3 linked regions of the Homo sapiens genome follow. The protein of the gene in region 1 interacts with the protein of each later gene in a pairwise test. Each region holds a gene or a part of one and is shown in the gene's direction. Other genes may lie near its edges. The genes, in order: DBP, BATF3 and CEBPG.

Region 1 (4,436 bases):
TGAGGGGCAACAGGGACCCCCGGCACCCCGAGAGGCGCTGCCGAGGCCCCAACTACCGCCTGCATGGTATGGTCCAGTCTGCACCCCCTCTAAGTCTTGGGCTAACCCTCTTATATGTGTCTCCCCTTGGTGTCTCAGTGTGATTCAGTCCCATCCTCCTTCCTGCGTCTATATGGTCTAGCCTCGTGAGCTGTCTCTTTTTCTCTCTTTCCCTACATGTCTATGTGGTACAGTCCACCTGCCAGCCCTAGGCCATTGCTAGCCCACGATTTGTCTTTCCTCTTCACTGCTTTGTAACTTGGTCTATAACCCTTGACCCCTGCCTTCCTATGGTCCAATTACCTACTGTTCTGTGCTTCCTATTACTGTGAATTTCCAAAATGGTACAATTTGGATCCTCTCTCCCTTTCCAAGTCGTACTACCTTACGCTGTTCCACAATCTGATGCTCCCTTCCCCCTTACTGAGAATCTACAAGGTACAACCCCTTCCCTCCACCTCTGCCTCCCTGTGGTTTAGCCCAGGAATCTCACACACCCCCGGCTTCGCAACATGGTACAGTCCACACCCCCCCCCCCCCATGAAGACCTTCAAGTAGTTCAGCCTACTGCTGAATCTGGACGTCCCGATTCCCCCCTCCTATTGGCTTCTTGTGGTTCAGCCCAGTGCTTCTCGACCTAGTACATTCTGGTTCCCCGCTCGCAGACTTCCGACGGTAGGGCCCAGCGCGGCGCAGCCCACGCCCCCTGCACACCCCCCGCCCCTTCCATCCTATACTGACGCCCCCTGCCGTTGTTCTCTGTCTTACAGTGGATGGTGTCCCCCATGGTCGCTGAGACTCCCCTTCGAGGATTGCACCCGCCCGTCCTAAGCCTCCCCACAAGGCGAGGGGAGTTACCCCTAAAACAAAGCTATTAAAGGGACAGAATACTTCCTGTTTTCTCAGTGGTCTGATTCTAGGCGCGGTGGGGAAACATTTGGGTATTAAAGAACAGACTTCTTCCGGAAACCAATCTTCCTCTTTCTAAACCTCCGCTCTCGGTATTTTGGCTTCCTGCTTCTCAAAACCATCTTTAGGACCGCGGCCCCTTTAAGCGGCGCCCCTTTTCCCCCCATCACCCCCCTCGCCATCAGGCAGCACGAGCAGAGCCATGTGCTTCCCCCTCCCGCCTGCCTCATTGGCCCAAACTGGGTCACGGTCCCGCCCCCCAGTACCGCCTCCCATTGGGCAAATGTAGGTCAGTGTCCCGCCTCCCACCGAAAGGCAAGGCAACTTCACGCGCTGAGCCCCTCACGCGCCCTCCTGGGCCCTGGCGGACCCAGAGGCCCCATTGGCTGTGCGTCTCAAGGTGTCGGAGACGATTGGTCCGTGTTTGCAGCCGGAGGGAGGCACGCGGCTGGGTTGCATGCCCATAGAGGCTGGCGGGGCTGGACGCGCCGGGCGGGGACCCGGAGGAGGGGCGCGCGCTGTGGCGTCGGGTGTTTTGGTTTGGATTTTTTTTTCCGCGAAAGAAGTTTGCTTTGGCCACGCCTCAAGGCGGCCGCCTCCTCCTGCCCCCTCCTCCGCCCCTCCGCGCACACCTCTCGGTGCAGATTGCAAAGCGCCTTCCGTTGCGAGAGCTGCAGATTTTGCAAGAGCCAGGCTCGCCCACCTTGTAGAAGGAGCGCCTTGAGTCCCCTCTCACCCTCGGTTGCAAAGAGCCGACCGCTTGATCTGGACACCCCCTCGCCCAGATTGCATGATCTCCCGGGACCCTCTTGAGTTGCACGTTTCTGCACCGAGGACCTCAAATCCCCGTCGCTCCTAGGATTTGCAGCGTTCTGGATACTGGAGGGTTGCAGGCTACACTCGCCCGCCCCTGGGCAGACACTCGTCCAAACCACTGGAGTGTGCTGGTGACTGGCAGGCCAGCCCTTCGCCTCTCCATGAACCCGTGAGCCTGGGGGCAGGTGCCAGGCGATGGCGCGGCCTGTGAGCGACAGGACCCCGGCCCCTCTGCTGCTGGGCGGCCCGGCCGGGACACCCCCTGGCGGGGGAGCGCTGCTTGGGTTGCGGAGCCTTCTGCAGGGGACCAGCAAGCCCAAAGAGCCGGCCAGCTGTGAGTTCTAACCCCCATCTCACCCACTTCGGACACCCTACCCCCTTAGGGACTCAGGTGCCGTGGGGTGGGGTCCCATAGAAACCTGCGTGCGGGGAGTCCATCTTCCCAACCTTAATCTACTCAATTACTCAGGTGTTTAGGCCCCTAGATCCCTTAGCGCCCAGGACCCAAAAGCGCCGGCTCTGAAGCCCGTCCACCCTAAGGACCCAGGCACCAACGTCCCCAACGTCCTCCCCGCTTAGTTCACAAGAGTGTAGGCCCCAGCCTCCTCTTCCTTTTGGTCCGGGAGTCTGGACCCCTGGGGTCCCAGGGAGGGGGTGTGTCGGGTGCTCACACGGTGGTGACACGGGCTTGGGCGGGGCGTCATGGGGTCACATGGAGTCTAGGGATGAGGGATGTGCCCCAGGAATAGAGCCCCTTCCTGCCCCTTACAGATGGTGGGGGAGGGGAAGGGGGTACAGCGCGCAGGGGATGGGGGTTGGGTAATTACAGTGAAATTACAGAGCTGTCATTTTTTCTCTCACCTGCCCAACCCTCCACCTACCCTGTCCCTGCCCCCCTATTCCTGAACTTCCGTCTCTCTTTCTCTGGTTCGCTGTCTTTCTGTGTGTCTATTCCTTCCCGGCATTCTGTCCCCATCTCTGTGAATCTGTCCACCTGTCTCTGCCACCCCCGTCTCCATTCTTTCTGGGTCTCTCTCCCACTCTGCGTCTCCGTCCCTTTTTCTCCCGTCTCTCCTCTCCGACCCCCCGTCCCCTCTTTCTCTGGATCTCCGCCCTGTGCCTCTCGGACTCGGGGTCTCTTCTCCATCTCTATCTCCCCCACCTCACCCTCATCCCAACCCGTCTTTCCCGGCCCGCAGGTCTCCTGAAGGAAAAGGAGCGCAAGGCGGCCCTGCCTGCAGCCACAACCCCTGGGCCAGGCCTGGAGACTGCGGGCCCGGCGGATGCCCCGGCTGGGGCAGTGGTGGGCGGAGGGTCCCCGCGGGGGCGCCCGGGGCCGGTGCCCGCCCCGGGTCTGTTGGCGCCACTGCTGTGGGAGCGCACGCTGCCGTTCGGCGATGTGGAGTACGTAGACCTGGACGCCTTCCTGCTGGAGCACGGGCTCCCGCCCAGCCCGCCGCCCCCCGGTGGCCCGTCGCCGGAGCCGTCGCCCGCGCGGACGCCCGCACCCTCCCCAGGGCCGGGTTCGTGCGGCTCGGCTTCCCCCCGCTCCTCTCCTGGGCACGCCCCCGCCCGGGCTGCCCTCGGGACCGCCAGCGGCCACCGCGCAGGTGCGGCGAAGGGGGCGGGGCGGGTCCTGACGGGGCGGGGCTTGGACTCAGGGGGCGGGGCTGTGCGACGCTGGGGGCTGGGACCGTGGGACCTGGCTGCGGCCTCGAATTCTGTGTCCAGTTGTCGAGAGGTGTCGTGGGAGGGGGCCAGATTCGGTGTCTCTTAATGGGTCAGGGACCAATGGATCCATGGGGGAGGAGAGACTTGGAACCCTAAATTCCAGGAAGCCTGCCCAATGAGATTTTGTGGGTTTTTCTGTGGGACTTGGGGACAAACGATGTGGATACTCGTGAAGCCAGAACTGGAAGTCCGGAACACCAGAGTTATTTACTGGGGAGTGGACTGACCCCCGAATCTGGGCCCATAATCGATGGAACTGGGATAGGACTGGAGCCCCTAGGTCCTTTACAGGGGCAAAGGCAAAGGAGAGGCACAGAATTCTGTTTACCCAGGACATAAGAGACTGGCAGCCCAGGTCCCTGGGTCCCCCAGTGGGGCGTGCTGCAGCCCCGGGTCCCAGAGTTCTTCAGAAGGGAAAACGTTAGGGATGTTGTTTCTGGATCCTCCAATTGGGGCTGGGGCCAAGCTTCCTATATTCCTAGGAGAGGCCTGGGATCCCAGAATCGTGGTAGCCCAGTGGCGGGGGTTCTGGGAAGGTCCAGGAGGCCGATGCTCCCCGGAGAGCAGGGGGTTGGGAATCTTTGGAGGTTGAGTGGAACTAAGTGACTGGAAGAGCAAGAGGAAAGATGTTTCCCTTTGGGCACATTGAGGTCTCCAGGGACGGACTGCAGGTCGGGGATTCCTGGGCACACCTGCTCCAGGTCCGACCTCCGGGCCGAACCAGGGCCCTACCCTTCCCAGCGGCACATTCCTGCGCCACGTGAGTCCTCCCATCCCTCCTCCGCGCTTCGCGCAGGCGCCTTCAAGCGCGAGGGGGGCGGGGCCGGGGGAACGTGAGGGCGCCGATGGCGGGGGCCTGGGAGGAAGGGAGGAGGAGGGAAGCAGGCGTCAGCACGTGACTCGGCCCTGAACCTGTGTCCTTAGCTGGCCCCGGCTGGCTG
Region 2 (3,645 bases), on another chromosome or scaffold:
GGGTCAAAGAGGCCAGGACAGCGGCTCCACCTGTATACAGACCCCAGAGCTGTAGCCCTCACCTTAGCCTCACTAGCTCCACACAAGTGTCGTTGGTCACAAGCGGGTGAGGAAGCAGACGACTGGCTTAGGAAAATGGAAGTATATCCCAAACCTTCTGCAGAACCAAAGGAACATCATCTCTGAACCAAATCATTACTCACCACGTGAGTAATCCCTTCCCTGTTCCTTCCAGGAGGGCATTGTAGCTGTGTGTATCATTGGATGACTAAATCTACTATTGGAGGCAAGGTATCTGGTTTAAAAATGGTGTAAAGAACCCTTTTGTCAAGCTCCAGTGAGTTGAGCACAGAGCGCCTTGCACACTACTGCGGGCCATGACAGAAAGCCCCTTGGGACCCCTGGACCTCCCAGGCCAATCTAGGGTGGGGACACCATGCATAGGAACCTCCTCCTCAAATCTGGAGTGAGGCCAGCTCATTGGGAGACACCAGAGGGCCCAGAAAACAGCCACTGACAGCCACTGCCTGCTGCTCCCTGGAGACTGTAGCGCATCAAAGGGCTTTCTTCATGTGTTCCTCTATCCCACACTGCAGGGATTGCATTCCTGAATATCTCAAAGTAACTCAAGCTCTTTACTTGCATTTCTTGCATATCCTGAGGGGGGATATTTGGAGCAAACTTGTTTAAAGTTTCCACTTTTTGGTCAGGCACAGTGGCTCGTGCCTGTAATCCCAGCACTTTGGGAGGCTGAGGCGGGTGGATCACTTGAGGCCAGGAGTTCAAGACCAGCCTGGCCAACATGGCGAAACCCCATCTCCACTAAAAATACAAAAATTAGCCAGGTGTGGTGGCGTGCGCCTGTAGTTCCAACTACTCGGGAGGCTGAGGCAGGAGAATTGCTTGAACCTGGGAGGTGGAGGTTGCAGTGAGCCGAGATCACGCCACTGCACTCCAGCCTGGGCAACAAGAGTTTCCACTTTTCTCTCCTCACCTCACTCACATACTCTACCTATACTTGAGCCTCTGGTTTTTTTGGGTTTTTTTTGCTCTTTCGTCTTCCTGGGTTTTTAAAAAAATATGGAACACTTTATGAATTTGCATATTATCCTTGCTCAGGGGCCATGTTAATCCCTGTATCATTCCAATTTTAATGTATGTGCTGCTGAAGTGAGTACTTGAGCCTCTGTTGCCTCCAACACCCTGAGAAACTTGCCCCAGCTGCAGCTCTTAGGAGTTTTTCGGCCACCTCCCTCCCCTCCTTGTTCTCCATCTCCAAAGTCCTAGGAGTGTCCGTCAAGGCGAGCCCTCTGTGGAGGGGAGAATGGGGGAAGAGGCTGCACAGGCCAAGCCAGAGAGGCAGGGGCTGGGGTTCCCCTTCACGCAGAGTTTTCTGGGCAGTGGTTGCTGGCAGTTGGACTACGGTGATGAGAAGCAGTTCTTAACGTGTGTCTGTAGACCTCAGAGTCCACTGTGGGCTTTCAAATCATCCCTTCAACCCGCTCACACCTCCCGTGGGGATTTCGACCTGCATTCATCTCTGAACACTAGGCGTGTGCCAAAGTCCACACTGACAAATGAGAACCAAAGTGAACAGTCAGGGTCTCGTCTCATCTCACCCAGGCTGAAAGGTGGCTCAGAAGTGGGTCAGACTGGCTCGACCAGGCACCCCAAAGGTGTAAGACTGAGAAAGAATTTTGAGTCACAAAAGGAAAGCAGCAGTGCCATCCTCAGGAGCCCCAAATGTCACAAACTGACAAATGACTTGGGCAATGTGATTGTGGTATGTGTTGCCATGGTTTTTTCAGATATTGCATGTTCTGAGAGCTTCATGGCAGCACCCATGTGGCTTAGAAACTGATTGTGGCACTCATTTGTACAGCCCTTGCTGGTAACACAATTTTTCTGCTGGGAAGTGCATCAGTGAAGGCTTGGGAGTAGACTTATTCTGAAGTCCTGAGATCTTATGGCCTCTTACTTCTGGTAACCATCATGGGGAAATCTGGACCCAGGCACTGCTAACTAAAAGCAGAATTGTTGATGCTACAAGAGAGTTGCAGTTGACCTTGAAGTTAGGAGTCAGATCCCAGGTCTATGTGACCTTGGAAAAGTCACTGTACCTCTCAGAGCTTCAGTTTTCTAACTTGTGAAATGGGGTCTGTGTGTGGCTATGGCCTCCTGTTAGCCTGTTCCTACTTCTTTCTTTCTCACCTTAGTTGTCATATCTGGTCCCTGGTACCCACTTCTTTACCAGTCCTTGATCCTGTCTTCAGCCTCAGAGGCATCCTGGACCCTGCGTATCCCTAGGCAGCCCGTTGATCCCAGTCACCTGCTCCTAGATGCCCAGAACAGGGTTTCTCAGCCTCAACACTGTTTATGCATGGGGCAGCATAATTCCTTGTTGTTGGGGGCCTGTCTTGTGTGCTGCTGGATGTTGAGCAGCATCCCTGGCCTCTAGCCACATGATGTAGTAGCACCCCCGACCAGCTGCGATAACCCAAACTGTCTCCATACACTGCCAGTGTCCCCTGCAGACTGCCACAATTGCCCTACTTGAGATCCACTGCCTTAGGCAGCTTAATTTCTGAGGCAGAGCTGGGATCCACAGTGATTTCACCACCTCTAATTTTTAGGTGTCTGCTTTGAAACTGTCCCGACAAATACCCAGAGAGGGAGCACAGCAACCTCAAACCCTCCCATGGCAAAGGATTTGGAACTTGGCAGAATTCGAGCTAGAGGGGTCATATTTTTGGAAATAATGAAGGGTTTAATGTTCTTTGCTTGCTTTTTGTTTGCGTTTACTCCAGGAATTTCTTCTGGGTGTGAGGTGGGTTTCATTTCTTCCCCCTTTGCTGCTATTCAGTGTTCTCTGGCCTCTTCTTTCTTCCCTCCCAGCTCCTCTTGTTATTTTCAAAGGGCTCGTCTCACCTAAAGATTTTGACTTCTTCTCTTCTTGTTATTCCCTCAGCTCAATAAAAGTCCCTCAGCGGGTTTATGAGTAATGCTTAAATCCTAGAAGAGAAAGTCCTTATGGAGAAGGCAGATGAGGGGCCCGTGGGGCACCTGTCGGGCGGCTCTGAAGACTCTAAGCATGGGTTGGGGGAGGGCAGTGGACCTCAGGGAAGCCTCAGGCCACAGGGCTGCGCACGGCTTCCAGAGACAAAACTGGGAAGCTCAGAGCGTCTTGCTGCGGAATTCAGTATATGTAGAAAGGCAGCTTGGAATATTCTACCAAAGGAAGAGGGCTTCTTGTCCTTTGGAATCTACTTAAAATGTTAGCACATTGGAACTATTCAAATGTACTCTCCATTTTACTTGAAAGTCAAGGGCATTTCCTGCTGCAGGGTGGAGTGTGTGTGTGTGAGTGTGTATGTGAATGTGAATGTGGGGAGTCTGCATGTGAGTCTGAGTTTTTGTGAGTGTGTGTGACTGTGTGAGGTGTATGTATGTGTGTATGACTGTATGTGTGTGACTGTGAGAGTGTTTGTGTGACTGTGTGTTGATTGTGTATGTGTGTGAGAGTGTCTGTGGCTGGGTATGAGAGTGTGTTTGCAGATGTGTGTGTGACTGTGTGTATCTGTGTGTGTGTCTGTGGTTGTGTATGAGTGTGTGTGTGTGAGAGTGTGTGTGTCGGGCTGTGTATGA
Region 3 (3,384 bases), about 15 Mb from region 1:
TAAAGAGTTCCTGGATGATGATGATGCTGGTCCAGGGACCACACTTTGAGAACCACTGCTCTTCAGCTTTCCTGCTGTTTCCTCCTTGAGTGATTCACATGGAAGGAAGCCAGGCGCCGCCCTGCATCCTGTAGCCTGAACTTTGGAATAGTGTTTGTCCACAGAGGAGCCAGACTTGAATTTAGGACTGAGTGTCCAGCTTTCAAATAAACACTTTTTGCCTGTTGTAGGTGTTCAGTAAATGTGTGTGGAGGAACAAAGCGTAAATGAGAGTGGCCTTTTCAGTGTAAAATCACTTAGCTCTTTGATCCCCTTTTACTTGGTTAATCTTCACTTTAAGAGCTATTTATATGGTTAAAGAACTTACTAAACAAAACATTCTTGGAGTTATTTTGATTATCTCCAAGTTTCTCTTTCTTACATTTTCACCAGTTTGTAGGTTCAGTGAATACTCTTTTCAGGCCAAAGGGCTTACCTTTAAAACCTCACCTACCACACACGTTCAGCCTAGTACCTTGCAAGATGAGTCAGGCAGAGGTGAAAAAGCCCTTCCCTGTTCCTGTATCTTTGGATACGGAAACAGGCGTGAACGTTGCTGAACGTGGACCCTGTAGTGAGTAAGAGCTGTTTGTTAGTGACTGAAGGTCGTGGTGTGTTGTCTGTAGGAAAGTGTCTTACTATTCCACATCCCTCATTTGCATGTGGGGAACAGACAGCCATGGAAGAAAAGAGATTTGCCCAAACTAAAATAGGGGGAGCCACAGCCAAGACAAGAACTGGCCTGGTCACTGGTCTCTACCGCTTTGGATCATTGCTATCTCTGAGCATGGACAAGTTGACTGTAGAGAGCTTTAAAGGCTAAAAATATAATTGGTATATTAAAAAAAAAGTAGAGAAATAAGGTGAACATGATTATGATTGTTAAGACAGTCTCAGGGGAGGTGTTAAACAAGTTCTTAAAAATTGAGTAAAGCACCTCTCACTTGACACCAAATGGATAATAATAATGTTAGGTGGCACTAAATGTGGCTCAGATTAATACTAAACAGCCACTTTTCTACTGGAAGAAAAATGAGGCAACCTAATGATGACCAAGGGAAATTGTGAACTGTCCATTACTGAAGATAGGCTTGGAGTGGATCGCCCTCATGGTTTGGAGGGATGCTTTTTGTCTTGCCTTAGTGTTGGCGTGAGAACAGATGACCTACTAGCTCAGAGTCGGCTGTGTGGCTTTGAAAACAATGGAAAGTAATGACACATGGACTTTTCAAAGCAAAGATGTTTTTTAAAAAGAGACCAATAAACAGTGTACAGAATTGCCTGGCTGAAGGTTTGGGTGTAGCTACTGGTGTTTGCTAACTGAGCTTTCCCTCATTGTGGGATCACTGCATAAATCTGACTCCAGATTTTTTCCACTGATGTGATTTTAGCAGTTTTGTGAAAAGAGAACAGGATAGTTTTATGTTCCTAACACTGCTTTCTAAATTTCTAAGAGTGCCCTGATTCCTTGGTGGACACCGTTCACTGAACTTAGTTTGTCTTGAAGTGGCCTCATGTTGATAGGATAGTCACACTTTTACACTTCTTGGGGCAGCTGTAGGGACTTAATTGGATTCAGAGTAATCCACATGTGACTGCTTTTCGAAACCGTGCCTTCATTTCTGCAGGCAGCAGCACAGGGATGCTTCAGAGCTGGTGCGTCCTCCGAGCTCACACGAGCTCATTTGGTAGCACGAAGTGGCCACAGGCACGGCAGCTGCTCAGCTCCTTTGTCCAGCCTGGGTCCCAGGACCCGCACTTCCTTGGATGCATCATGAGGGCTTCTGTTTCTTTCCTTGTGGTTTCAGGTTGAGTGTGTTTTGAGTTTTACTAATTATGTCAAGAAGAAAAAACACACTTTTTACAAGCTTGGTGGGATGGGGAGCAAATTGAGTGTCAGAGCTCCTAAATTCAAGAAACTGACTCAGTAAATTTGGTTAAACTGTGGAATTATCATTTGAGGTCATTAAAAAAATAAAGCAAAAAACTACCTTTTCAAAATATCCGATGAAGAGAGCTCTGGGAGAGAACTCAAGTCCTCGATGACTCCCTCTCTGCATATTAGAACATGGAACCCGCAGGGGTGATAGCATGAGAGCGCTGGAGACAGGGTGCGCAACCCCAGCCTTCTGTTTTGACTTGAACCAACAATGGAAACTTTTCCCCCCTTTCATTGCAGGTGTCTCTCCTACTACAGTCAGCTGCAGCTCCTCCCTGGGAGATTGTCAAGTGCTGTTAGTTCACATGCGCCACCTAATTAGTGGAAGTCTTTTGTTTTCCTCCCATTTTTGATAACAATCGCAGAGGGGCAGTGCCCTCAGGGATCCAGGTGGGCTGAGTTTCGCCTGATGGTGCTTCTGTGCTTACTTACCTTTCTAAGTGAAATGATTTAGACTTCAGAAACATTGGAACAGTTGGCAGTTGCTGTAGACTTTTCTCAGCAGAATCAATTAATGTTGGCCTGATGTTAGGTACGTACAAGTTTGATCTCATTTGATCCTGTCATTTCAAATATTTTAATGCAATTTATTTTTTAACTAGGTACATGTGAAGATTTTTTGGCAGCTTAGCGTGGAAACCATTGATCACCCTGCTCTCATTTCTACCTGTTCTGTGTTGGCAAGGGAGAGTGCCCAAATGAGCAAGATATCGCAGCAAAACAGCACTCCAGGGGTGAACGGAATTAGTGTTATCCATACCCAGGCACATGCCAGCGGCTTACAGCAGGTTCCTCAGCTGGTGCCTGCTGGCCCTGGGGGAGGAGGCAAAGCTGTGGCTCCCAGCAAGCAGAGCAAAAAGAGTTCGCCCATGGATCGAAACAGTGACGAGTATCGGCAACGCCGAGAGAGGAACAACATGGCTGTGAAAAAGAGCCGGTTGAAAAGCAAGCAGAAAGCACAAGACACACTGCAGAGAGTCAATCAGCTCAAAGAAGAGAATGAACGGTTGGAAGCAAAAATCAAATTGCTGACCAAGGAATTAAGTGTACTCAAAGATTTGTTTCTTGAGCATGCACACAACCTTGCAGACAACGTACAGTCCATTAGCACTGAAAATACGACAGCAGATGGCGACAATGCAGGACAGTAGACCTCACCCTTTCCAGACTTTAGAGCTTGTGGCTTGAATGTTAAAGGTGTGACCACCGACACCACTCATGTCAATGGCTGAAAGTTGTCCATTTCCATGACTCAAAGACCCATTGGAGGCTATTTTCTGGGATCAGCACTGAAGAGTTGATTAGCTAAAAATGTTAGCCTTGTAATTCGAATATCTGGTTTTAAATGATAGAGGTTTTTGTGGGAATCAAAATCCCCCAAATGTTAAGGTATATGGTAAAAAAAG

What was found.
Region 2: the proteins of DBP (region 1) and BATF3 come close enough for resonance energy transfer, tested with the Homo sapiens proteins (one large-scale study listed by BioGRID and IntAct).
Region 3: the proteins of DBP (region 1) and CEBPG come close enough for resonance energy transfer, tested with the Homo sapiens proteins (one large-scale study listed by BioGRID and IntAct).

Annotation. Positions count from the first base shown.
Region 1 is NC_000019.10:48,634,518-48,638,953, reverse strand, and holds the start of DBP (D site-binding protein), read left to right. Parts: upstream 1-1,574; 5' UTR 1,575-1,959; coding exon 1,960-2,098; intron 2,099-2,963; coding exon 2,964-3,374; intron 3,375-4,436. Other genes in the region: CA11 (carbonic anhydrase-related protein 11 precursor), read left to right, coding at 1-66, 810-835. UniProt on the Homo sapiens protein: This transcriptional activator recognizes and binds to the sequence 5'-RTTAYGTAAY-3' found in the promoter of genes such as albumin, CYP2A4 and CYP2A5. It is not essential for circadian rhythm generation, but modulates important clock output genes.
Region 2 is NC_000001.11:212,689,797-212,693,441, reverse strand, and holds part of BATF3 (basic leucine zipper transcriptional factor ATF-like 3), read left to right. Parts: intron 1-1,074; exon of another isoform or gene 1,075-1,178; intron 1,179-3,645. UniProt on the Homo sapiens protein: AP-1 family transcription factor that controls the differentiation of CD8(+) thymic conventional dendritic cells in the immune system.
Region 3 is NC_000019.10:33,376,564-33,379,947, forward strand, and holds part of CEBPG (CCAAT/enhancer-binding protein gamma), read left to right. Parts: intron 1-2,580; 5' UTR 2,581-2,676; coding exon 2,677-3,129; 3' UTR 3,130-3,384. UniProt on the Homo sapiens protein: Transcription factor that binds to the promoter and the enhancer regions of target genes. Binds to the enhancer element PRE-I (positive regulatory element-I) of the IL-4 gene. Binds to the promoter and the enhancer of the immunoglobulin heavy chain.